Linked DNA regions of Homo sapiens. The protein of the gene in region 1 purifies or fractionates together with the protein of each later gene. This does not show direct contact. Each region holds a gene or a part of one and is shown in the gene's direction. Other genes may lie near its edges.

What was found.
Region 2: the proteins of KIR3DL2 (region 1) and TRIM13 purify together in Homo sapiens (affinity purification with mass spectrometry; 2 studies listed by BioGRID and IntAct, with this or other methods). This does not show direct contact.
Region 3: the proteins of KIR3DL2 (region 1) and IVD purify together in Homo sapiens (affinity purification with mass spectrometry; 2 studies listed by BioGRID and IntAct, with this or other methods). This does not show direct contact.
Region 4: the proteins of KIR3DL2 (region 1) and PLXNA2 purify together in Homo sapiens (affinity purification with mass spectrometry; 2 studies listed by BioGRID and IntAct, with this or other methods). This does not show direct contact.
Region 5: the proteins of KIR3DL2 (region 1) and ST7L purify together in Homo sapiens (affinity purification with mass spectrometry; 2 studies listed by BioGRID and IntAct, with this or other methods). This does not show direct contact.
Region 6: the proteins of KIR3DL2 (region 1) and KCTD10 purify together in Homo sapiens (affinity purification with mass spectrometry; 2 studies listed by BioGRID and IntAct, with this or other methods). This does not show direct contact.
Region 7: the proteins of KIR3DL2 (region 1) and PDLIM4 purify together in Homo sapiens (affinity purification with mass spectrometry; 2 studies listed by BioGRID and IntAct, with this or other methods). This does not show direct contact.

The regions. Positions count from the first base shown.
Region 1 is NC_000019.10:54,849,223-54,853,242, forward strand, and holds the start of KIR3DL2 (killer cell immunoglobulin-like receptor 3DL2 isoform 1 precursor), read left to right. Parts: upstream 1-1,220; 5' UTR 1,221-1,253; coding exon 1,254-1,287; intron 1,288-1,997; coding exon 1,998-2,033; intron 2,034-2,775; coding exon 2,776-3,060; intron 3,061-4,020. UniProt on the Homo sapiens protein: Receptor on natural killer (NK) cells and T cells for MHC class I molecules. Upon binding of peptide-free HLA-F open conformer, negatively regulates NK and T cell effector functions. Acts as a receptor on astrocytes for HLA-F.
Region 2 is NC_000013.11:50,003,542-50,007,041, forward strand, and holds part of TRIM13 (E3 ubiquitin-protein ligase TRIM13), read left to right. Parts: intron 1-3,500. UniProt on the Homo sapiens protein: Endoplasmic reticulum (ER) membrane anchored E3 ligase involved in the retrotranslocation and turnover of membrane and secretory proteins from the ER through a set of processes named ER-associated degradation (ERAD).
Region 3 is NC_000015.10:40,404,299-40,408,594, forward strand, and holds the start of IVD (isovaleryl-CoA dehydrogenase, mitochondrial isoform 1 precursor), read left to right. Parts: upstream 1-1,496; 5' UTR 1,497-1,520; coding exon of another isoform or gene 1,521-1,529; coding exon 1,530-1,673; exon of another isoform or gene 1,674-1,956; coding exon of another isoform or gene 1,957-2,052; intron 2,053-3,337; coding exon 3,338-3,427; coding exon of another isoform or gene 3,428-3,514; intron 3,515-3,640; coding exon 3,641-3,692; intron 3,693-4,296.
Region 4 is NC_000001.11:208,041,885-208,045,384, reverse strand, and holds part of PLXNA2 (plexin-A2 precursor), read left to right. Parts: intron 1-174; coding exon 175-318; intron 319-642; coding exon 643-877; intron 878-2,181; coding exon 2,182-2,324; intron 2,325-3,018; coding exon 3,019-3,287; intron 3,288-3,500. UniProt on the Homo sapiens protein: Coreceptor for SEMA3A and SEMA6A. Necessary for signaling by SEMA6A and class 3 semaphorins and subsequent remodeling of the cytoskeleton. Plays a role in axon guidance, invasive growth and cell migration.
Region 5 is NC_000001.11:112,528,642-112,532,141, reverse strand, and holds part of ST7L (suppressor of tumorigenicity 7 protein-like), read left to right. Parts: intron 1-1,976; exon of another isoform or gene 1,977-3,500.
Region 6 is NC_000012.12:109,467,301-109,470,800, reverse strand, and holds part of KCTD10 (BTB/POZ domain-containing adapter for CUL3-mediated RhoA degradation protein 3), read left to right. Parts: intron 1-1,072; coding exon 1,073-1,286; intron 1,287-3,500. UniProt on the Homo sapiens protein: Substrate-specific adapter of a BCR (BTB-CUL3-RBX1) E3 ubiquitin-protein ligase complex. The BCR(BACURD3) E3 ubiquitin ligase complex mediates the ubiquitination of target proteins, leading to their degradation by the proteasome.
Region 7 is NC_000005.10:132,264,196-132,267,695, forward strand, and holds part of PDLIM4 (PDZ and LIM domain protein 4), read left to right. Parts: intron 1-2,268; coding exon 2,269-2,350; intron 2,351-3,500.

The DNA.
Region 1 (4,020 bases):
CTCCCAGGTTCAAGCGATTGTCTTCCCTCAGCCTCCCCAGTAGCCTCCCCTAGGATTACAGGCACGTGCCACCATGCACAGATAAATTTTTTTGTGTGTGTATTTTTAGTAGAGACGGGGTTTCAGAATGTTGGACCAGCTGGTCTTGAACTCCTGACCTCGTGATCTACCCAACTCAGCCTCCCAAAGTGCTGGGATTACAGGCGTGAGCCACGGTGCCCAGCTTCGCTATGCCATTTCATGCAAGGGGCTTGAGCATCTGCAGATTTTGGTATCTGAATGGGGATCCTGGAACCAATCACCCAGGAATAGTGAAGGACCACAGTATATAATTTTTATTTGTCAATCTTAAAAATAAAGCATAAAAAGTTTACAACAACAAGATAAAAAATAAGAAGTGTCTTTATAGTGTGAGGATAAGTTTAGATTTATTTTTTCCTACGTGTAACCCTATGGTCCTGTGTTATTTGTTGAGAAAATATTCTATTCCACCTTAAACTACATGGCAGCCTTTGTCAACTATAAAGGGACTGTGTATCCACAGATGTATTTTAGACACAGTTTTCTGCCCAGTGGTTCTCTGTATCCCCTCTCATGAGGATGCTGCATTTCATATAAACTTATAGAACCCCTTAAAATTTGGTAACCTGAGTTCTCTGATTTGTTATTATAGGTTATTTAGTTTGCTTTTTTTTTTCTTTCTTGAGACAGACTCTTCCTCTGTCACCCAAGCTGGAGTTCAGTGGCTTGAGCTCAGCTCACTGCAGCCTCCGCCTCCCAGGTTCAAGCAATTCTCGTGCCTCAGGTTTAGTACTAGAAACTCATCAGGAAAATTAGAATGGCTTTTTGTCACAATTACTCTGATAATGTTAATAATACCTCTTAGATATTTTGCACATTACACATGAAGAAAAGTTTGAATCTCAGATAAAAACAAAAATACATCAAAAGTCTTTAATGTAAGCACAGAATTCAATCACCTCATGTGTGAGAGGTTGGATCTGAGACGTCTTTTGAGTCTGGTCATAGTGAAGGATGCAAGGTGGCAATTGTAGTCACAACAATTTCCAGGAAGCCATGTTCCGCTCTTGAGCGAGCACCCACTGGGCCTCATGCAAGGTAGAAAGAGCCTGCGTACGTCACCCTCCCATGATGTGGTCAACATGTAAACTGCATGGGCAGGGCGCCAAATAACATCCTGTGCGCTGCTGAGCTGAGCTGGGGCGCGGCCTCCTGTCTGCACCGGCAGCACCATGTCGCTCACGGTCGTCAGCATGGCGTGCGTTGGTGAGTCCTGGAAGGGAATAGAGGGAGGGAGAGTGGGGATGGAGATCTCGGCCTAGAGGTAAAGATATGGGCCTGGAGTGGAGATATGGGCCTGGAGTGGAGATATGGGCCTGGGTGTGGAGATATGGGCCTGGAGGTGTAAATATGGGCCTGGAGTGGAGATATGGGCCTGGAGGGGAGATATGGGCCTGGGTGTGGAGATATGGGCCTGGAGTGGAGATACGGGCCTGGAGTGGAGATATGGGCCTGGAGTGGAGATATGGGCCTGCAGGTGGAGATCTGGGCCTGGAGTGGAGATATGGGCCTGGAGTGGAGATATGGGTCTGATGTGGAGATATGGGCCTGGAGTGGAGATATGGGCCTGGAGTGGAGATATGGGCCTAGAGGGGAGATCTGGGCCTGGAGTGGAGATATGGGTCTGATGTGGAGATATGGGCCTGGAGTGGAGATATGGGCCTGGAGTGGAGATAGGGGCCTGGAGTGGAGATATGGGCCTGGAGTGGAGATCTGGGCCAGGAAGTGTTGATCTGGGCCTGGAGCCTGGGTCTCTCCACAGCTGAGAGCCCTGTTCTTGGCAGCAGGTAGCAGGGAGGCTAAGTTTACCTTCAGCCCAGCAAGGGCCTGGCTGCCAAGACACACAGTGCAGTGGGGGCAGCAGGGTGCCCTGGTTTGCCTGCAGTTGGATCGTCTATCATGATCTTTCTTTCCAGGGTTCTTCTTGCTGCAGGGGGCCTGGCCACTCATGGGTGAGTCCGTCCCCAAACCTTAGGGTGTCATCTCCCCACATAAGAGGATTTTTCTGAAACAGGAGGGAAGTCCTGTCGGGGAGTCTCTCATAAACTAGGAAGAGGGGACCCTTGGATACTCGGCCCACATTTCTGACCTCGCCCTCCCTGGCCTTTCTTTCCCTTTCCTGAGTCAAGCTCTGTGAAGACTGGGGTGAGACTGGGGTGCTCCAAGCTGGGGTGTGCAGGGAGGAAGTGGTGTCAGCAGCAGAGAAAGAGAGGGAAGCAGTGCTAGGAACAGCAGGTCCTCTGAGGACAAAGGTATAACTGACACCCTCCAGCGTTTCCGTGACGGTAGGGGCTGCAGTGTGGCTGCGGTCTTTCTACCAGAAGAGGGGGGAAACCACAGCCATGGCCCTGACATTCCAAATCCTCTGAGGGGGCTCAGTTCATGAATTGGCTGATATTCCATTCACATAGGACATGCCCTCCATGCCGTGTCTACTTTGTGTTGTTTTATGTGAGTAATTTTGCAGTATTAAAATCTAGTAAGAGTCACTTATTCAGCACTTGCTCAAAGTTCTCAGCTGACACTTGTTGTAGGGAGACGCCATGTCTATGTGGGGTGGGTCCTTCCTGTAGCCCTGGGCACCCAGGTGTGGTAGGAGCCTTAGAAAGCGGAAATGGGAGAATCTTCTGAGCACAGGGAGGGAGGGGTGGCTCCACATCCTCCTCTCTAAGGCAGTGCCTCCTTCTCCCCCAGGTGGTCAGGACAAACCCTTCCTGTCTGCCCGGCCCAGCACTGTGGTGCCTCGAGGAGGACACGTGGCTCTTCAGTGTCACTATCGTCGTGGGTTTAACAATTTCATGCTGTACAAAGAAGACAGAAGCCACGTTCCCATCTTCCACGGCAGAATATTCCAGGAGAGCTTCATCATGGGCCCTGTGACCCCAGCACATGCAGGGACCTACAGATGTCGGGGTTCACGCCCACACTCCCTCACTGGGTGGTCGGCACCCAGCAACCCCCTGGTGATCATGGTCACAGGTCAGAGGCTTTCTGTCTGGGCTTCTCACTGTCCCACCTCCTGAATCCCAGAGCTTCTGGTGGGGGTGTCCATCAGGGTCCCATCACCCAGGCCCCAACTGTATTTGGGGTCAAGGGAGATTGAATACAGGGGAAATGGGTGCTGTGGTGGGAAGAATAACTGTCGCCAATGATGGCTACATTGTAAACCCTGGAGCCTGTGACTATTTATGTTATAGGGCAGGGGACTGAAGGGGAAGGTGGAGCTCAGGTTGTTGATGAGTTGACCTTGAGATGGGGAGACAGCCTGGACTGTCCTGCTGGGCTCAGTGTAATCACAAGGGTCCGCGTGAGAGGTGGAGGAAGAGGGGAGTGGGGATTAGAGCAGTGTAGTGGGAGGGAGACGCTATCAGCCACTGTGGGCTTTGAAGGTGGAGGAAGGCCACTAGTCACAGAATGCAGGTGGCCTCTAAGGGCTGGAGAAGTCAAGAGAACTGATTTGCTGAGTCTCCAGAGGGAACGCAGCCCTGCAGATGCCTTGATTTCAGCACAGGGAGAACTGGATCCAATTTCTGTCCCCAGAAGTGGAAGGGGTCAGTGTGTTCTCTCCTGCTGCCATGTTTGTGATAATTTTCTGCAGCAGCAACAGGAAACCGACACAGGAACCCAGGTCAAGGACAAGCTAGGAAACCAAACAAGGATAGCCAGGTGTGGTGGTGGGCACGAGTAATCCAACGACTGGGGAGGCTGAGGCAAGATAATCACTTGAACCGGGGAGGCAGAGGTTGCAGTGAGCCAAGACAACACCACTGCACTCCAGCCTGGGTGAAAAAGTGACTGTCTCAAAAATAAATTAATTAATCAATTAATTAAAGAAACCAAACAAGGAGAAGGTTGGCTACCGTGGGATCAGCAAGGGTGGGATGCTGATGCCACCACCAGGCTCCATCCACATAGGAAGGGGTTGATGCTCCTGGAACC
Region 2 (3,500 bases), on another chromosome or scaffold:
TAAAAGAATTCTAGAAGGAAGAAGTCCAATACATATATATAAACTCTATTATGACACGTTTACTTTGTAAGTATTGGCTTTTCCATTTTTATTATTTTAGTGGTTGTGTTATGGTTCTCATTTATAGAAGCTGTTGTTGCCAGATACTAATTGAGGTAGGATTCATAAAGCACTTTTTGTAATCCTTCTTCTTTGTGGATAGCTTGACAATTTGTTCAAAAAAATAAACTCATAGTGGTGGTATGCAACTTTGTTAAAAATAAAACTGTAAATCAAAAAGTGAATTTCATTGTATGTAAATTTAAAAGTATGTTAGAAAACATCAATATGGCAGGAGAACAAGTTTGACTTTTTTCCGCAACTAGTGTCTACTACCACCTTTCTGGATACTTTAAAAAGTTGTCAGCTTTTAAAATTGTTGGTATAAAACATTTGGGAAGTTTTTAATTGGTATTTGTGCTTCAAAATTTAAGACTTTTCTAAGTATTCAGAAATATTCAAAGGAAGAGATGAATTTTGGAAAACTTGTTTGCCTTTATGTGCTTAATCTGACTTTAAGTTGAAATTTGAACAGTGAATAATAATTTTGTTTACATAAAGTTTTTTGACTTCTATATTAGGAAAAAAACTAGCTTGAGGCCAAGTGCAGTGGCTCTTGCCTGTATAATCAGCACTTTGGGAGGCTGAGTCCCGACTGCTTGAGCTCAGGAGTTTGAGACCAGCCTGGGCAACATGCTGAAACATCATCTATACAAAAAAAGTACAAAAATTAACTGGGAATGGTAGCATGTACCTGTAGTACCTTACAGCTACTCATGAGGCTGAGGTGGGAGGATCACCTGAGCCTGGGGAGGTCAAAGCTACAGTGAGCTGTGTTAGGGTCACTGCATTCCAGCCTGGGCAACAGAGTGATACTCCCTCAAAAAAAACAACAAAACAGACTGGGCACACTGGCTCACGCCTGTAATCCCAGCACTTTAGGAGGCTGAGGCAGGTGAATCATTTGAGGTGAGGAGTTCAAGACCAGCCCGGCCAACATAATGAAACCCTGTCTCTACTAAAAACACAAAAATTAGCCAGGTGGTAGTGGTGCATGCCTGTAATCCGAGCTACACGGGAGGCTGACGCAAGAGAATTGCTTGAGCCTAGGAGGCAGAGGTTGCTGGTGGGGAGGTTGCCAGTGAGCCAAGATGGCGCCACTGCACTTCAGTCTGGGTGACAGCCCGAGACCCTGTCTTAAAAAAAAAAAAAGGGCCAGGTGCGGTGGCTCACGCCTGTAATCCCAACACTTAGGGAGGCCAAGGAGGGCGGATTACCTGAGGTCAGGAGTTTGAGACCAGCCTGACCAACATGGTGAAACCCTGTCTCTACTAAAAATACAAAAATTAGCCGGGTGTGGTGGCGGGCACCTGTAATCCCAGCTACTCAGGAGGCTGAGGCAGGAGAATCGCTTGAACCCAGGAGGCAGAGGTTGCAGTGAGCCGAGATGGTGCCATTGCACTCCAGCCTGGGTAACAAGAGCGAGACTCCCTCTCAAAAGAAAAAAAAACAACCAGAAACCCCGAAAAAGAGGTGGAGGGGATGTATCCTTTTTTGTTCATGTCAAAGGAGTAAGCTGGGTTGATTACTTCAGATTTTGTGTTAGCCATACTTTAAGATTTTGTAAGTTATTTTGCTGTGAAGAGTACCTTTTATTTATGATATTAAAGGCTTTAACTTAAATTATCCTTCAAAACTTTGGAGGCAACAAAGATGTCTACCATGGTTTCTTGGATCAGGTATTAGTCACTTGTGGAAGTGGTCACATAGTTTTGTCTTAGAGAAAGTTTTGATTATAAAGAGAAGGCATAGGCAGGGCATGGTGGCTCACAACTATAATCCCAGAACTTTGGGAGGCCGAGGCGGGTGGATCACCTGAGGTCAGGAGTTCGAGATCAGCCTGGCCAACATGGCGAAACCCTGTCTCTACTAAAAATACAAAAATTAGCCTGGCATGGTTGTAGGCGCGTGTAATCCCAGCTACTCGGGGAGACTAAGGCAGGAGAATCACTTGAACCCAGGAGGCGGAGGTTGCAGTGAGTTGTGATTACACCACTGCACTCCAGCATGGGCAACAGTGCAAGACTCCATCTCTAAAAAAAAAAGAGAGAAGGCATAAAACTAAAGGAAGAAAGGAAGAAGAGAAAAGGAAATATTTAGTTTTTTTTTTTTTTTTGTGATGGAGTTTCACTCTTGTGCGATCATGGCTCACGGCAACCTCTGGCCTCACGGGTTCAAGCGATTCTCCTGCCTCTGCCTCCTGAGTAGCTGGGATTACAGGCATGCGCCACCACGCCTGGCTAATTTTGTATTTTTAGTAGAGACGGGGTTTCTCCATGTGGGCCAGGCTGGTCTCGAACTCCCGACCTCATCTGCCCACCTCGGCGGCCTCCCAAAGTGCTGGGATTACAGGCGTAAACCACCGCGCTTGGCCAGAAATATGTAGATTTTAAAGTGAATGAAAATAAGAATCTTTAAATTATCAACCAAAATTTGTAAGTTAAGTCACTAAAAATGAAATTAGAGGATCTATTGTAATTTTGATGCAATTTTTTTGAAGATACTTTCCAAATAGTATTTTTTCCCCTCTGGTTCATTTTAAGAGCTGTATGTTGATCATGACCTTGGGATGACTGTTTATTATTTCTAAGTTTTCCTGTGTGTGACATTTTCCTTTTCACTTTTGATCACATTTGTTTGCCTGAAAATTCTTCTTGGCCCCTGTCGTTGTATCCTCAATTTTCTTCATAGTTTCTCTTTGCCTTTGGTGCCCTTTTTCTCCTCCTCATCCCACCCAATCACTTGGTATATTCTTTGTTTTCTTCTTATTTAATATGCTTGGATAGTATTCTCTGGAAGTATTAACATTGCAAGGATGAGTAAATTAGGTTTCTTTTATTGAGTGTTGCCCTTACCACTTTCCTGTTTCTATTGCCTTCTCAAAAATCTGGCCTTTGTGTAGAATTCTTAGGCAAAAGATGATAGTAATGGAAGTGAAAAGTGTGGAGCAGGACTGGGGTTGGCAGATCATCAAAAGTTTGACTTCATTGTTCTGAAAGTTTGTGTGTCTTACAGCTGTGTGGTAATCTCTTTCAGAAGACAAACTAAGTTGAGTCTTTATAGCCATTCTCTTTCCAATGCTTTTCAGAGGTTATATGATTTGTCATATCACAAAGGATTTTTCAGAAAAATCAGCTAATTACACCTTTTTTTGCAATATGACACTAAATTTGAGACAGAATAATCTTTGCTTTAGTTCTCCCTATGTTATGTATTATAAATACATGTATCTTACAATCTACTATAAAACCATAAACTGGCTGGGCGTGGTGGCTCACACCTGTAATCCCAGCACTCTGGGAGGCTGAGGTGGGCGGATCACCCGAGGTCAGGAGGTTGAGACCAGCCTGGGCAACATGGTGAAACCCTGTCTCCAGCAAAAAATACAAAAGTTAGCTGGG
Region 3 (4,296 bases), on another chromosome or scaffold:
CCCTCACCACTCTTCCTTTCCCTGTGTCCCGAACCCGTGTTTCTAAGTCCTGACTGCTATTATTCTGGTGTATTAAATACATACTATTTACTATTTAATACATCTTTTGTTGTTGTTTGTTTTCTCAAATTTTTTGTGGAGACAGGGTCTCCCTATGTTGCACAGGATGGTCTTGGACTCCTGGCCTCGAGCGATCTTCCCACCTAAGCTCCCAAAGTCCTAGGATTACAGGCATGAGCAACCATGCCCAGCCTATTTAATACATCTTATTTAATATATAGTATAATACGTAAATATGTACTATTTAATATTTAACACATATTAAATACAAATGGTCCCCAACTTACAATAGTTCAACTTAAGATTTTTCAACTTTATGATGGTGTGAAAGTGATAGACATTGAATAGAAACTGTACAATATTCAATAAATGATATCTAACACTGTCTTATAAAATATGCTTTGTGTTACATGATTGTGCCGTTATAAGCTATTATAAGTGTTCCAAGTACGTTTAAGGTCCACTAGTCTAAGCTATGATGTTTGGTAGGTTAGGTGTTTTTTTGTTTTCTGTTTTGAGACGGAGTGTCACTCTTGTTGCCCAGGCTGGAGTGCAATGGCGTGATCTCAGCTCACCGCAACCTCCACCTCCCGGGTTCAAGCGATTCTCCTGCCTCAACCTCCTGAGTAGCTGGGATTACAGGCATGCACCACCACGCCCAGCTAATTTTTGTATTTGTAGTAGAGACAGGATTTCTCCATGTTGGCCAGGCTGGTCTAAAACTCTCCGCCTCAGGTGACTCACCCGCCTCGGCCTCCCAAAGTGCTGGGATTACAGGTGTGAGCCATCATGCCCGGCCTAAGTGTATTTTCAAAGTGCATTTTTGACTTACAATATTTTCCATTTATGATGGGTTTATCGAGAAGTAACCCCACTGTAAATCGAGGCGCATCTCCAATCTAGAAGGCAGCTACTCCTTAATAACCCCTTTCCCATAAAACATGAATCTAAATCTACAAACCTTGTTATATAATAAAGCAAGATGTACTCTGTTATGATCAGTGTGCACGTTAGAGCAAGCACTACTTTTCCGATCTTAATTATTCCAGAGATGCTTGACCAATTTACTGGGTACGTGGGCAGTTTTCTGATTGCTGTTTCCACACTCTGCTTTCCCACAGAGAGATTTCCGCAGTTAGGGGCTGCTATTTCAACGCAGGGAGATAAAAAGAAAAAAACACTTGCTCTTCTACCCCGCTAAAAACACTCATCCTAGGGAGCACGCCAGCATTTGCAGCGTTCGGGGCAGGGCCACTCGGCCTGCGGCCGTTGCACTGGCTGGAAGCTGGCAGGCGATCACGGTTGATTGGCTCGGGTGCGGTCCAAGGGCAGCAACGCCTTCGGCGGGCCGCCTAGGGTGATTGGCTGCTGCAGCCCACCCCCTAGCCGGTTTGGTGGGCGGCGAAGCCTGGATTGGTGGAGCTAAGAGCTGGCTCAGTTTCAGCGCTGGCTCTTCGTGCATGGCAGAGATGGCGACTGCGACTCGGCTGCTGGGGTGGCGTGTGGCGAGCTGGAGGCTGCGGCCGCCGCTTGCCGGCTTCGTTTCCCAGCGGGCCCACTCGCTTTTGCCCGTGGACGATGCAATCAATGGGCTAAGCGAGGAGCAGAGGCAGGTGAGGAGACTGACCCCCTTCCTGGCCCCAAGGCCTCCTTCCTGCCTGGTCCCCAAGGCCTCCTTCCTGCCTGGTCCCCATCGGCCCAGCGCCCACCCAGCCTTGGCTTTTGCCCGTGGGCCGTTGGGAGCGCCAGCGCGGGGGCGGGACGCGGGGCCTCCGACCTCGGGTCCAGTCCTCTGACCTCGGCCTCACGTCTGTGGAGTGAAGATTTGAGACCGTGGGACAGTACTGCTGGAAGTAGAGAGGAGGAGTCGAGGCTGGGAGAGCTCCTGAGAGACTGATGGTGTTTTGGTGGAGGATTGGCCAGGCTACCTACCGCTTGTGGCACAAGGGCCCTCAATCTGTATGTAGTTCACTTACACCTGAACAGGCTGAGGTATGCTTCTCACACCTGGGTGGTCATCGTAATCACCAGGGAGTCTTTTTTGTATAAACAGTTTGGGGGTTTTAAAAAGCCACAGTGAGCTCTCCTGTCGCTCTTCAGCCCATTGGGTCAAAACACAAAAGTTGAACAAGTACTTGAAAGAAGTAGTTGGAGGCCAGGCGCCGTGGCTCACACCTGTAATCCTAGCACTTTGGGAGGCCGAGGTGGGAGGATTGTTTGAGCTCAGGGGTTTGAGATCAGCCTAAGCAACATAGCCAGACCCCCATCTCATAAAAAATAGAAAAGAAGACGAAGTAGTATTTACAAATGGAGCAGAACCAGAGTCCTTCCTGAGGTTTCACTTGGAGGCTGGATGGAGTTGGCGGAGGTATGAGCCTCCCAGCAACTCCGTAGTTTATGTTTATAGCCAGCGAGCGCTCAGAGCTTCCGTGAACCACCTCAAGTGGAAAGGGTTCAATCCCTATTCTCAAGCTTTCCTGGCAAGAGGAGTTTCTTTTCTTTTTTCTTTTTTTTTTTTTTTTGAGACGGAGTTTCACTCTTGTTGCCCAGGCTGGAGTGTAATGGCGCGATCTCCGCTCACCACAACGTCCGCCTCCCGGGTTCAAGTGATTCTCCTGCCTCAGCCTCCCAGGTAGCTGGGATTACAGGCATGCACCACCACGCCCGGCTAATTTTGTGTTTTTAGTAGAGACGGAGTTTCTCCATGTTGGTCAGGCTGGTCTCAAACTCCCAACCTCAGGTGATCCTCCTGCCTCGGCCTCCCAAAGTGCTGGGATTACAGGCATGAGCCACCATGCCCAGCCGCCAAGAGGCGTTTCTAATCTCTTTGGGTAATCAGACCCTTTTAGCCAAAGGTTCGGGGGCTTAAAAGAGCCTGACAACTATTGAGATCTGGCAGCTGCCTGGAATGCAGCTGGAGCACAGAGGGTGGGAGGTGGGAAGGTGCTGGGGAAGCTAGGAGAGTCAGCTGGGGTCAGCTCCTGCAGGGCCTAGTAGGCCTGGGTGAGAAGCTTGTGTTTTATTCTAAGTACAGTGGAAACCAATGGAATGATTTTTATGTAAAGTGTGACGTTTTAAAAATTACCATCAAGCTGTCTAGGCTGAAGACCTTAAGAAAGAGGGGTGAAGATCATCTCTGAGGAGGCATAAACTACTGAGGCCTCTCAGTTTCAGTCTGATGCTGTTTGGGGAAGTTACTTGTGGCCTTTTCTCTTGAATGTGTCTGGGTAGTGGAGATGCTGTCTGCAGTGGCATCTGTTTACCTCTCTCCTATTAGCTTCGTCAGACCATGGCTAAGTTCCTTCAGGAGCACCTGGCCCCCAAGGCCCAGGAGATCGATCGCAGCAATGAGTTCAAGAACCTGCGAGTGAGTTGGGAGGTCCGGGCAGTCGGGGGCAGTCAGGGAGTGGGGCTGAGCTGCACTGCTGCCTGGAAGAGCTCACACAGTTTTCTGGTAAATGAAGCCTCTCTAAGAATGCAGCCCCTCTCTCTGAAGTGTTTGGGTCTCATTGTTCCAGCCACATGTGACTGGCTGCCTTCCCCTCAACACTTATTCCACTCTGCTCCATTCTGTTGGCAGGAATTTTGGAAGCAGCTGGGGAACCTGGGCGTATTGGGCATCACAGCCCCTGGTGAGTATAGTGTCTTTCCCTAAAAAGAACTTTTCTTATGTGCCCTTTAAGACAGTTCCCAAAAGAAGCAGGAAGGGAAGGGAAAGATTGTGCTTAAAGAAACCCAGAACTGCATCTTTTGGACCTGTGAAAGCACCCATTGATTGTCAGCCCAGAGAACAGGACACTCTTCTATTTTATTAGACAGTGATGTAGAGAAGGCAGAGGGATTAATTAGGTCATTGTGGCTCACTTGGATCAGGATCAGTCCAACTCTTGAACTCTGCATACTTAATAGGCTCACCCAGGTGATTTGGGAAGTTTAGAAAACTCTGGATCAAGTGGTTGTCTTCATAGTACCTCAGTCTTACTGCCTCCCCTAATCCCTATAAGCTTTGTCCTACCAGTGGCCTCTCGGCAGGAACACTCTGGGCAGGTGTGTCCCTGCAGGGACTGCCTGTGTCCTCTTCTGCTTAAACCTTGGAGCTCATTTGGGAGCAGATAGCGGGGGGAGTAGGGTAGGGGCTGGGCAGGGGAGAGAGATGTCTATCTGGGCTTCCAGGTGAGGTGGCCAGATGATGTGTTTAATAGGCTGTCCGGAGGGAGAAGGCAGGGAGCTAGCAGG
Region 4 (3,500 bases), on another chromosome or scaffold:
CTTTCTCTCTAGATCATGGCTGTTAGAAGTCCCCTCCACAAAAACTTGCCAAGGAGTCATTTCCTGGTTTTTGCACTGCTGCCCTTCCCCGTCTCCTTAATCTCTTTTTAAGTAGGCAATTAACTTGTGCGTGCATGTGTCAATTATGCCTATAAAGACTGCTATTCTCTACAGGGCAAAAACCTCTGCCCTCCTGCCTCTGGAGGGGCCAAACTCAACTACACTGTGCTCATCGGAGAGACCCCTTGTGCTGTCACCGTATCTGAGACCCAGCTTCTCTGCGAGCCTCCCAACCTCACCGGGCAGCACAAGGTCATGGTGAGTGAGCCCTGCGTCTGTAATGCCTCCTTCCCGCCTCGTGGTGCATGTGTGATCTGTCCTAAGGAAAGGCTCTCTTCTGTCTCGTTGCCTGACTCACCCCCTCCATATCTCCTCATCTCTGGGTCCTACATCAAATTGGGTATAAGCTGAGAACACAAGAAAAGAAAGGCAGATGCCGAGGCAGGAAATTGCTTTTTATCTAGAGCTGCACTGTGTGGTTGTGGTCTGTCATGTCCTTCCTCGCACTGTAAGGATCTGCTGGCATGCCCGGGCTCTACACCTGTGTGCATCCATGTGCGTCTGTATGTGTACAATGCACAGGTTCACGTGGGCGGGATGGTGTTCTCGCCTGGCTCGGTGAGTGTCATCTCAGACAGCTTGCTGACCCTGCCAGCCATCGTCAGCATCGCGGCCGGCGGCAGCCTCCTCCTCATCATCGTCATCATCGTCCTCATTGCCTACAAGCGCAAGTCTCGAGAAAATGACCTCACTCTCAAGCGGCTGCAAATGCAGATGGACAATCTGGAGTCCCGTGTGGCCTTGGAGTGCAAGGAAGGTTAGTGGAAGCACACCCTCATTTGCTGGGTCCCTCTTTCTCCACCTGCCTTATTGCCCTTCTCCCTGCAGACAACTCCTATCTTTACTCCCATCGCTGCCAGCCATGCCTCTGCATTCCACTTTCACCCCTGTTTTCCCAGAACTTCTTTTGCTTATAGGGTCAGAGATGTCCAATGAAGAATGCCCACTGCATGAGGACCCAGGTCCAATTGCATTGTTCTAGTCCCTTCTTTGCCCTGACCCATCCCACAATCTGGCAAACACTTTCTCCCTCTCAGGGCCTCAATGTCCCCACAGTCAGAGTCCCCAGGCTCCACAGCCCCAGACTCTAGATCCCCCATGGGAGTGTCCAGCTCTTGTTTTTCTGCACACTGTCTTCGCAGCACGTGGGAGCAGCGGCAGCAAAGGCAGACAAGCACCTGCCTCATCTCCCCCAGGGTTTGTTTTCCATCAGTGCTGCAGGCTGAGCGCTCTGAAGGCCGCCACTTGCTGGTGTCCTTGGCTGTGGACGTGTGTGGGAGTGCAGATTGTGTTTTCTCCCATGTCCCACGCAACCACAGCCTCGAGGTGACGAGTGTACCTGGCGTCCTCTCAGGCTGAGGACCTGGCAGGCTCTCTGGGTAAACAGCTCAATTAGGAATGAAAACATTTCTCCTTTTGCTGCAAATGTCAAGATCAGAAACAAGCCCTCTGCTGGATGACAGGGAAGAGCTGGGCTGGGAAATAGGACATGTGGAGCCAAGGTTCCTCCTGGCAACAGGGCTGGTGAGTTTGGCAGAGGAAGGAGCCAGGAAGACAGGTGTGCCACCACCAAGGTGAGGCTTCTGAAGCCCTTGCCTTCCCAAACTCGGCTCTCAGCTGAGCGTCTCATGACCAGACCTCCCCTAGGCTTTTGCATCTTGATTTATTACCTTGATTAGAAAAGGGCAGCACTTTGCCTGTTCTGGTCTTTGCTGGACCCCCTCAGCCATGGTCTCTCACCTGCCTCCAGCATCTCCGTGATCTTTACTAAACGGCCCAATCATGATACTTTTTTTTCCTTGTTGAAACTACACTTGTAATATGTAAAGAGAAAATTTGAAATTATAGATAAGTATAGAGGAGAAAATAACATAAAAATCACCCATTTCCCCACCACCTAAAAACAGCTGGGAGTAGCCCCGCCCTCTGGAGACACACTCCCGTAATCCTCAGAGTCTCTACAAAAGGTCCTCCCCTCGTCCTTTGCAAACTTCTTCTCCCTCTTTCTCCTCCCCCGACTGGGGCTTCCCCACGAGCCTCTCCGTCTGCTTATTCTCATAGCTTTTGCTGAGCTCCAGACGGATATCAATGAGTTGACCAGTGACCTGGACCGCTCAGGAATCCCTTACCTGGACTATCGTACCTACGCTATGCGAGTCCTGTTCCCGGGCATCGAGGACCACCCCGTCCTGCGGGAGCTGGAGGTAATGCCTGCCTCCTGGGCCCAGCCACCCAGCAGGGATGCAGGCCCAGGGTATCCTAGGAAATCCAGATGAGACTCAGCAGTACTGAGTAAGGTTAGCAGGGAAGAGGGGTCAGTAGTTTGTAACAGCATCTCAGCAACAGAGCTATCAGGAAGGTTACGGCTGAGGGGGCACCCAGGCTCCTTGGGATGGTTCCAGGGTAAAGCTCATTGTTTGTCATTTTTTAATTAATGACTGAACTAATTAACTAAGATCCTGCCTCATTCTAAAATGGATTTAAGATGGCTTAAAGAAAGACACAGGATTCTATGAGGTTTGTTTGTTCATTTGTTGGTTTGTTTTACTAAAGATAATAAATCAGGCAGAGGAGATTAAGGGGAGACTAGTAAACTGAAGAAGTTTGAGGGGGCATCTCCTATTCTATCCTTGGGAAAATCAGGCAGCCTCCCCTCTGAGAGCTCCGCATGGAGCCCAGCCTCCCCGGCCCAGTGCAAGGTCAGAGCAGACTGTCGACCTTAGAGCCAGCTGTTCCTACATCATCACGGGTGAGTGGAATGGGGTGGGGTTGGTTATAGGCCTCAAACATAGGGTCCTACAGCTAGTGTCATCGCCAGCAGGCCCTCAGTGAGACCCTCAGGTAGGAGGCCCGATGCCTGTCCTCTGAGGGCGTCGCCTCCACCACACCCCACCCCAGGTACAAGGAAACGGGCAGCAGCACGTGGAGAAGGCCCTGAAGCTCTTTGCCCAGCTCATCAACAACAAGGTGTTCCTGCTGACCTTCATCCGCACCCTGGAGCTGCAGCGCAGTTTCTCCATGCGCGACCGGGGCAACGTGGCTTCGCTCATCATGACCGGCCTGCAGGGCCGCCTGGAATATGCCACTGATGTCCTCAAGCAGCTGCTCTCTGACCTCATCGATAAGAACCTGGAGAACAAGAACCACCCCAAGCTGCTACTCCGGAGGTCTGGCCCGCAGCAGTGGGTGGAGAGGGTGGCAGGAGTCTGAACCTGGACAGAGCACCTCATTATAGCAGGCCCCACAAGCAGCATGAGAAGGCCCACTCCCCAGAAGGGGCACCCATTCAGAGCAGCCTGTGTCCTCACGTCTCTGCAGGGCAGAATCTGACTTTCCCTCAGCCCAGGGAGACTACAGAGTCTGAAGTCACCCAGGTGTGA
Region 5 (3,500 bases), on another chromosome or scaffold:
TTTTATTTATTAGACTCTGATCCCTTTAGGGGTTTAGCCCTTATTGCGAGCCCAGGGATTCTAATTTGGCTAAGCCCTAGCTGTGAAGACTTTTCTTACTAATTTGCCCTTGGTGAATTTTAGCTCTTGTAATACCACCTTTAAAAAACAAAAAACAAAAACTGCAGTAGAACATGCAGTTCAGAGAGTCCTGGATAACCTGAAAAGAGTCTTCTTTGAATGTTGGCTTATTGAATGGAAGGACTCCAATAGGGCCTGTCTTGATTTGTTTTCAAAGTTTAGATTTGTAAAGAGCCTCAGCAAATTAAAACATGGTTTTAATTGTCCTATAACATGCTAAAATATGGTAATGATTGTCCTATAACATATAACAGGTCTTTGCATTTCAAATTCATTGGGTACCTGTGAAGTATAAAATATAATCCCTGTTCATAAGTAACTCATAGTCTAGTGGTAGGGGGTTTGAGATGGGCATGAAGATGTATTAGTATAAGGTGGAAGCTATTGCCACAATAGATGAGTTCATCCTTGAATATTCATTTATTTGACTGGAAGGGAATGGTGAGTTATTTTCACACGGCTCCCGTAAGATATAGTGACCCAAAAGGTCAGTCTAGACTAATAGATTATGCTTCCTTTCAGAAGAATTTATTCGGTTAGGTCAAGCAAGAACATATAGAAAGAGATATCTTTATTCTTTTCCAAATATGTGATGTGGAGTACTTTCATCTTTATACTCAGCAGCTGGAATTCATCTTTTTGTAAGCAGTGTTATTTATTATAATGTTTATATGAATATAATTTATCAAAAAATGGAGAGCTCCACAATTCAAAATTTAAGAAATGTCTCACCTCAGATTCACAGAGTAATTGCCTTAGACAAAAGCTCTACACTCATACATTTTATATACCTCTTTTATATCCTCTCATTCCTAATAATGACAGATTAATAAGAACTAATAGCCATCCTGGTTTTCAGTATGAAACAATGTGATTTCATGTGAAGAAGAATAGAATAGTAAGAGTTAGGACCAAAATTACTTAGTTCTTTGGGCATGTGAGAGAATAGGAAAGAGCTACCCAGAATTTTCCAGAGCTCACTTGATAATGTCAAGAGCTGCAGCTGGCAGTCACTGATTCTGAAAATAGGCACACATCATGTTAATCAAAAAACTAAATAAAAGGATATTGGGATAAGGCACTAAAATAAAGTTCCTTTTGCCCTTTCTTTATAGCTGGGTTTTGCTGATCAATTCTGCATTTTTTGGCAATTCTACCTCTTTACAGGGAGAACCACCAGTATTATTTTCTCTTTAAGTAACTGAAAAAATATTTCCTATCTTTATTGAGCTGTCTCATTAAAGTAACAGACTAGCTGGATCACTGGGGATATGACTTTGGGATATATGTTTTAAAATAGGCACAGAGGCTGGGTGCGGTGGCTCACTCCTGTAATCCCAACACTTTGGGAGGCCGAGGTGGGTAGATCATCTGAGGTCAGGAGTTTGAGACCAGCCTGGCCAACATGGTGAAACCTTGTCTCTACTAAAAACACAAAAATTAGCCTGATGTGGTGGCAGGCGCCTGTAATCCCAGCTACTCAGGAGGCTGAGGCAGGAGAATTGCTTGAACCTGGGAGGCGAAGGTTGCAGTGAGCCAAGATCACGCCACTGCACTCCAGCCCTAGTGACAGAGCGAGAATCCATCTCAAAAAACAAACAAAAAGGCACAGAACCTCTCCTTGAGTTTATACAAATTAGGCATGTAATCAGTAAATATGGTAAAATATGGTAAAATGTAATCAGTAAATATGGTAAAATGGTAGAAGAGCAGGCCCAAGGCTAAATTCTAAACTACTCATGCAAATATTATAATAATACTAGAGAGTTGTAGAATGTACTGATTAAACTAGTGTTGCAGTAGAAGAAAGGAAGATAAACTATTTGAACAACAACTTGGAGGCAGAAAACTGGGGATTCGGCTTTGGAATTTACTTTATTGGTAATTATTACTTCTCTAGCTTGTCGCTCACTTCTCTGAGCTTGTCACACCTACTGGAATAAGCAGAAATTGTTATTCTTTGCCTAGGTTAACAAAATACACATCTCCAGATAGTAAGTTAGTTGCATGATGGCATCTTCTAATTCAGAGGTCTGATTTGTAGCATATTGGTAAGGAGGCACATTCATATTTCTGGGTGGTAGGGAGCCCACTTTCATCCATTCATCTGCATTCCTGTTCAAACTAGCAACTGTGTCTGCTAACATTAGGTTCCCAGAAAAAAGATGTAAGTAAACCCCAGTTCCACTGAGCTCCTGTGAAGGTACCACCTCCATAGAACTTGGTTGAAAATAATGAGCATAGTTACCTTTTTTTTTTTTTTTTTTTTTAACTTTTATCTTTTGGATGGCATTGAGAGTAACCTTCTGTTTTTTTGGCCTCAAGTTCCATATTGAATTTTTTAAAATTGCATTTTGAGCAATAACATTTCCCTGGTTGCTTAACCAGTTATACAAGTTGAGACTTCTGTCTCTATGCCTATCTTATAATAGCTTCTCTGGGAGAACAGATGAAAAATAAGCCAGTTAGATATTTTATGAGTATTGAAATCCTTTCCATTCAGAAATGTAAATAAAACAACCAGCATGAGCAATCAGCTTATGTCAGATTCCATGGGTTTGTATTACATAGGGAAATTACAGTGCAACCTGAAACATGCTTCTTAATGAATTCATAGTGCTGTCACAGTTGAATGTAAACCCTTGAGCTTTTCTTTTGTGAAGGGTTTCAGAAATCACCCTTTATAAACTACCTAGGGGAGGGAAGAGAACTAAGATGATACTAACAAATGCTATCACTGGTTTTGTGGCTGCCTCCCTTACAGCACCAAATTTTGCCAGTTAAGTAAAGCAGAAACCTAGAATATGGCACACGTTTTGGCTTATTCAGTGTACACACACACACAAACACACAAACACACACACACTCAGTGCCACACTGGGTCAGACCCATAGTTCAATACTCTGTTTCTGAAAGTGGCACCAGGGAACTGCTTTGGAAGAATAAGATTGCCCTTATGGTTTTTATCCTCAGAAGTTAGGGAAGTTTGGTTAAGAAGTATGACAAAAGCCCCATAAGTAGCGATTTTTACCTTTAGCAAATGCAGGAAAATAGACACCTAACTAGAGATCATGAAGTTAGAATTTGTCTCCTTCTTTGGCTGCTACTTCAGCCCCTGGTAGTAAATTAGAATAAAGTTCCTCATTTATTAGTGAGCTGGTTTTGCAGTCTCTAAAGCTCTTTTGCAGCTCTTCTATTCACTATGGCCTCAGATACGATAAATCTGCTAGCTGCAAAAATTCAATATACCAAGTAGAATATGTAGGACCAGTCAAGTTTTAAGTTTGGGAGTGAGGAAAAGCAGCATGTATTTTCTATTTTAAATTATTTTCTTTTCACATTCTAATTTCTTAAGGGTTTGGCTTGATTTATGCCAGGTT
Region 6 (3,500 bases), on another chromosome or scaffold:
AGCCAGGATAGGGGATCTTTGGTCATTTTTGTATTTTGGATAATGTTTATGTTTTTGTCTGTGTCCGGACATGATGACTGAATGGTCCTGTTTTTGTCTTGTCGCAAGGGCACAGAGTGGCCTTGTCTGAGGGTGATGTGCTGTGAAAAACTGTTGATGTTCAATGGGAATGGTAGGGCCAGCCGTGGGGGCTACCCCAGATTCAGCAAAGATTCTGCCCACCCTTGCACATCTCCACCTCTACAGTTTTACCTGTTCATTTCAGACATGTTTGCTCTGAGTACACATGTGCCGGATACCAATCTCACTTTCCAGGCCTGCGTAAATCAGCCACTGTATCCATTTCTTTGAGATGTACAGAGAGTCAGCCATGCTATCAGGGAGATGGTAGTGGGATCTTGCTCTTTTGGGCAGCACTAGTCTAGGAGGTCTAATTTTGCAATAACTTGGTTCCAAAAGTTTCCATGTCTGTTGTTTAGTCCTCAGAAACACCTTCTCCCTACAGGAAGTGATAGGAGTGCCAGCTGGAATCCCATTCAACTTCATAAAGCTTATTTCATCTGTGATGCAGCTGAAAAATGACACTTAGCTAGCTATTGAGTGGTACATGGCAATAAGGAAATGTAAAGAGACCTGGGCAGTGCTTTAGGCTGTTTTAGGGTGCAGCCAGGGTGTTCATGTATACAGGTGCTAGGCAGAAAGGAAGTGCTTATAACACAAGAGTTAGGGGCACCCTTGTGCCTGCAGGGTCGACAGGCAGGGTCAGTGTATGAGGCTTTTTGGGTGGGTTTTGGGACAAACTAGGGGATGCATGGCCCTCTCTAGGGGTCATCCAATACCCCAGCTCTGACCAGTTGTTCCCCTGCTAGCCCAGTTGGCCTCTGATTTTAGGAGAAGCCAGAAGTCCAGATTTTTCTGTGAGCTCTCCTTAGTTGTCCACATTGGAAGCAAACTTTTAAATGCTGTGTATGCGTGGCCCAAGCAAAACACATCTGGAGGCCAGATTGAATCCACAGGCTGAAAGCAGTCAACCAGGCCTGATGTCATGACCCTGTATCCTCTCCACTGGCAGGAAGAGATGTCAGGAGAAAGTGTGGTGAGCTCAGCGGTGCCAGCGGCTGCTACCCGCACCACTTCCTTCAAGGGCACGAGCCCCAGCTCCAAATACGTGAAGCTGAATGTGGGTGGAGCCCTCTACTATACCACCATGCAGACGCTGACCAAGCAGGACACCATGCTGAAGGCCATGTTCAGCGGGCGCATGGAAGTGCTCACCGACAGTGAAGGTAAGCTCACCCACCATGTGCCTGCCTCTGGCCATGCGTTATGTGGTCAAGGAGGGCTTCCCTGAAGAAGTGACATTTAAGTCGAGACCTGAAGATGTGTAGGAGGCAGCTTGTTGGGGACTCCCACCATCTTGACTTGGTCGTTGATTTGCTATGTTACTTTGAGAAAGTCACTTCCTCACCCAGGGCTTAGCTTGCTTATCTCTGCCATGCTTCTGTGACTTCAGAGTGAAACTCAAGCCTGGGGGAGAGAGAGGTATCTTCCCTGGACCCTTGTCCTCCCAAGATGGGGTCTTGACAAAGACTTGCCAACCTGGGTTTCAGTCTCAGCTCCCCATTAGTATCTGGTGATCCTAACCAAGTGGCCGAAGCTTTTGGTCTCATTTTCTTCCTCTGGTGAAATGGGCATGACAATACCCTCCCCCGTGGGGCCATCGGCACATAGTCAGTATTCAGTGCATGTGTGTATATGTGTGTGTGTAGATAGATAGATAGATATACACACACACACACACGTTTTTCTTTTTCTTGTGGAAAGTCATGTTATTAAAAGGCAAAGAATCGGCTGGGCACAGTGGCTCATGCATGTAATCCCAGCACTTTGGGAAGCTGAGGCGGGCGGATCACGAGGTCAGGAGATCGAGACCATCCTGGCTAACAAGGTGAAACCCCATCTCTACTAAAAATACAAAAAATTAGCCGGGCGTGGTGGTGGGTGCCTGTAGTCCCAGCTACTCGGGAGGCTGAGGCAGGAGAATGACGTGAACTCGGGAGGCGGAGCTTGCAGTGAGCTGAGATCGCGCCACTGCACTCCAGCCTGGGCGACAGAGCGAGACTCCGTCTCAAAAAAAAAAAAAAAAAGGCAAAGAATTGTTGAGAGGGGCATTGTCATAACTACTTCCTACTCACCTGGAATGATCAAAGAGCCCCTGACAACAGGGCTCCATCCTTACCTGGCTGGGTTTGCGTGCAGGTCACATGAGGTTTAAAAATAGTACCATCCTTCATTCCTTGGCCTGAGATTGCTTAAGACCAGGCCAGGGCACAGCCTGGCTTGACCTTGACCCCGCCTTCCTGTTTCTGAGACTGGTCTTCTGTGCTGCTGCCCTACCTTTCCAGGGACATTGACTTGGGAGGGTGGGTGAGTTTTCACATAAGCGGGTGGGATTGGGGGACCTAAGCCTGGTGTCCCACAGTTAATTCTCTGATCCTAAGAGGGCTGAGGCTTGGGCTACCCACTGGTGAGGACATTCCTCTCTGTGTCCTGGGGAAGGCCAGGGTGTGGGGCTGGAGGTTCTGCTTCCTGTGAACTCCGGTTTCTGTTCAGGCAGCAGCGAACTGAGGTTGGAGCCCCAAAGCTGCCATCTCACACTTAGCTTTTTATGAGTGGGAGGATCCTCTTTGCTGTGCCACACCCCACATGGCCCGAGAGTATCTGTGGAAATCAAGACAATAGCACCCCCGCTGCTGGAGGAAGCAGGCATTATCTGAGAACCAGGATTGTTGTGGTTTTTCTCATACCCTACCCACTCTCTGGAGGGGCTCAGGAAAGGCTGCTGAGTTGCCTCGAAAGCTGAGGCTCTTCTCCTCGAAAGGCCTCGCCTTGGTGGCCTGATGCCATATCAAAAAAGAAACGGACTCCTCTGTCCCCCTGTCCCCGACTGGACAGAGCATACGAGTGGTACTGGCAGGACTGCTCACCTTCTAAATCCCTGCTATGAGATGTTTTTCTCCTGGTGCTGCCTGGAAAACACAGGTTCTCGGGGGACACAGTGTCATTTTGACACTGCAAACTGTGACTTGTTTCATGTCACCGGAGCTCAGCCCCTGCTTCATATCATTATGAAAAGCTAATGGTATGGCATTTTATGGGGCATTCTTTTCTCTTTTTTTGAGACAGGGTCTTTCTCTGTCACCCAGGCTGAAGTGCACTAGGGCCATCATAGCTCACGGCAGCCTCCATCTCCTGGGTTCAAGCAATCCTCCCGCCTCAGCCTTCTGTGTAGCTGGGAATACAGGCATGCACCACCAAACACAGCTAATTTTTAGAATTTTTTTCTGGAGATGGGGCCTCACTATGTTGCCCAGGCTGGCCTCGAACTCCTGGGCTCAAGCCATCCTCTCACCTCAGCCTCCCAAAATGCTGGGATTACAGGCGTGAGCCACCACGCACAGCCGATGGGTATTGTTTCATTTAATCCTCACCATAACCCT
Region 7 (3,500 bases), on another chromosome or scaffold:
GCGGAGGGTGGTGGGGTGGAGGTCCCCCTCCTTCTTTCCTTCCTTCCTTCCTTCCTTCCCCAGTCCTTTGTTCCAAACCAGGCATGGATGGAGCCAGAGGTCCACTGACCTGTTCCACTCTGAGCATTTCAGCCCCAAAATGTCACTGGCCATGGAGCAGATGAGAGCACATTCTCTACTATTACAGAGCTGGGTTGAGAATTATGCTCATAATTTTACCCATAAAAGAGAGAGAGGGAGAGATAACTATGCTGTGCTCCAGAAAGTGATTTAATCTCTTGAGCCCATAACTTCCTCAACCAAAAATATGGACCATCTTGCGCTCTGGACATTGAGTGATGATGTACCAGGCCTGCTCAGTCAGAGTGAAAACCTGAGTCCTGCCCTGCAGCCCCCTCACACATGCAGACTCTGGGGGATCAAGACATGAGGGCCACCTTGACTTTCTGAGCCAACATTTCTTCTCCTGGACACTTGCCCACCTGCAAGCTTTCTGACTCTGCTCCCTATCTTGCCTGCTATGCCAGGACCTATGCCTGGCCCCCAACGACACTCCTCCCCGCCCCCACCACACACACCCACACAGCAAGGGCTCTGCAGTAAATCAGCCTGTTGAGCTGGCTGGAGTGAGCTACCCTGTGCTCTCACTCCCAGGGTTCTACCCCAGACCAGCTTCCCTATCTGCCCTCTTGTGTACAGAGAGCTCTAATCCCCCCACCAACTCCCCCACAGAATGAAAAGTGTATCAAAGGCCCAGCTTCCCCACTGGGCTTCTTTTGCTTTGAGCCCAAAGCCAGGCATCCAACAATCCAAGCAAAATCACACTTCCTGGGCATGTTCTATAGGTCCAGGACCTTTCTGACATCAACTCCAACACTGAGGCCACTGATAGAGTCCCTGTTGTCCATCACATGTGGCCCAAGGTACCTTTGCACAGCCTACCCTTTGCCTGTCATTTTGTTTAAAGAGCCCAGCCTGGGATGGGGGTTGACACATGATTAAGCCCTTCATTCTGATCTGATGCATTGGGCCACATTAATGGCTCTGGGTACTTTGTGCCCTTCGACCTTAGACGTCAGGCTTGTACTGCTCTTCTGGGCAGAACTTCAGGGAAGTTGAAGGCCAAATAGCCACACAAGATGTCCCAGCTTTATCCCAGAGGAGTTCTGAGTAGATAGAGGCCACAGTTAGAGCTGTGAGTTAGGGTACCCACTTGGGAGCCTGGTTGAGGGGGCTAGAGACAGGGACTATGGGGCTGGTGTTGCCCTGGGGCAGCAGAGCTCTAATACCAAAGGCCTGGAGTAGAGAGGTAGCCTCCAAGGGACTAAGGAATGGGCAGAGGCGAGGAAGTGCAGAGTGAGTATGGACCATAGGCATAGATAGATTATTAAAACCCTCAACTGAAGGGGGCAGAAGAGGCAGGGGCAAGCTGCTAGGTCAGTAATGAGACCTTGAGAAGCCTCAGGAGGCTTCGTGGGGTGAGTTGGAGGGCATTATTCCCCTTTGGTCTAACCAGCCTCACCTCATACCCACCTGCCAGTCCAGGGTCCATGCCCCTTCCTGGCCTGCCTTCTCACAGGGCTACTGAGTGACAGGGCTGGGCCTTAGGCACGTAGCCTCTCGGCCTGCCTGCCCTGCTTATGGCAGGTTTATGATGTTTTTCTCCCTCCTGAGTGGTGTTTGGCTTTTGGTTTCTATGGCGAAGCAGGAATTTCCTAATGGCCTGTTTCCCATCTGGGCTGGGCAGACTCAGTGATGACTCTGCCGGCAGCAGCAGCAGGAGGAAAGACACACCCCTCAGAGCCTCCATTCCACCTACCCCAGAGCCGACGGACGCCTGACCCCACACCCCACCAGAGGCTGTAGATGCCCAGAGGATGCGTGGATAGGCTTCTAGCTGGTCAATGTGTGAGGCCTGGCTTGCAGTGCTATAAGCTGGGCCTCTTTGAGCTGAGCTTCTGTAGGCCACGAAGAGGGTGGAAGATTAGGGAAGACACAGGGCTTCTCCTGCAGCCTCTCCAGGAACCAGACTAGAGAGGGATTGGGCAGCCGATGGGGACAGAAGCATATAGCCCTACCCCAGGAGGATGGCAGCTAGAGTTGTGGCTCATTGCCACAACAGTCACCATTGTGGTACAGGGGAAAGCACTGGAGTGGTGTTCTTCTACCTGCAGGGCACAGCCCAGAGCCCAGCCCCTCTTGATCCTGGCTCCCAGGCATGGTGGGCGTGGTAGGAGACATATCTGACCATCACAATTTCTGCCACAGGCCTGAGGGTAGGAGCTGGCCCAGTGCCCCTGATGACAGCAAGGCTCAGGCACACAGGATCCACATCGATCCTGAGATCCAGGTATGTACAGACACTGCCTGGCCTGGCCTGGCTCAGAGTGAGCCCAGGGCAGAGGGGCCAGCATGCAGGTTCACCTGCACTGAATGTCCTCACTGGGGCTCTCAGATACCCAAGACAGAGACTGAAGCAGAAGTTTTCTCTGGACCACATCCATACCCCATCCCATGTTCCTCAGATGATGAGCACCTGGTGTGGGCTCTGTCTCTACTCCGGGCAATCCTGGATTCTGGACCAAGGTGCCTATGATGTCCAGGATCTGGGCTAGGCCTTGGTTTGCGGCTATCACACAGCCAGCTGGAGTTCACTCTGGTGCTCAGTGATGCCAGACCAGAAAGAAGTCACTGTGCTTGCAGCGGGGGAGATTGGTGGCAGTCTCAGGCTGTGGAGTGACCTCAGGCTATGGGACACTCCTCTGAGTGCCCTATCCAAGCCTGAAGTTCTCTCCTGGCCATCCTGTGGTGCTTCTAGCAGAACTTAGGCTGCAGGCCTGTCTGCCCAGTCACCTTTCTGTGTGTGATAGAAGTCATATCTCTGGTCCTGTCCTCAAGAAGAGTGAGGGGGTCAGGCTATTCTAGGGCCTTGTTTTGCCATGGCATAAGGAGTAGCCAAGTGGGGATGACTGAGGTATCCAGAGCCATCTCTGGGCCACAGAGTTTGGGCAAGGAGACTGGGATGGTCTGTGATGGAGCCAGAACCATGGGACCCAGCATGTGGGACCATTGCCTCCTGGGCCTGCCTTTGTCCACCCTCTCAACATGAAAGAAAAGGGGCCAAGGCAGGGAGAGGCTTCACTGAACCAGAGGGAAGGATGTGCCCCAGCTTCTCCCTCACTATCTACCCCAATCCCATCTTGCTCTATTCCCTACCCTGCCTGGCTGGCATCCCTGGAGCCAGATGCTTACCACCTTCCAGGCAGTGCCCATTCTGGCAGGGGAAAGGCACTTAGAAGTTCTGGGCTAGGGGAAGCCAGGGGCCAAAGGAGCCCAGAGTAGTCACATGACTCAGACAAGGAGTCAAGGAGTGCTTCCTGGAGGAAGGGGTATTGAAGCCAAGACCTGAAGGGCTAGGAATGGTAAGGCAGGCAAAGGGGTATAGGGAGAGGAAGTGTGGCCCAGAGGTGAGGTCTTGCACCACAAGTTCAGAGAAAAGA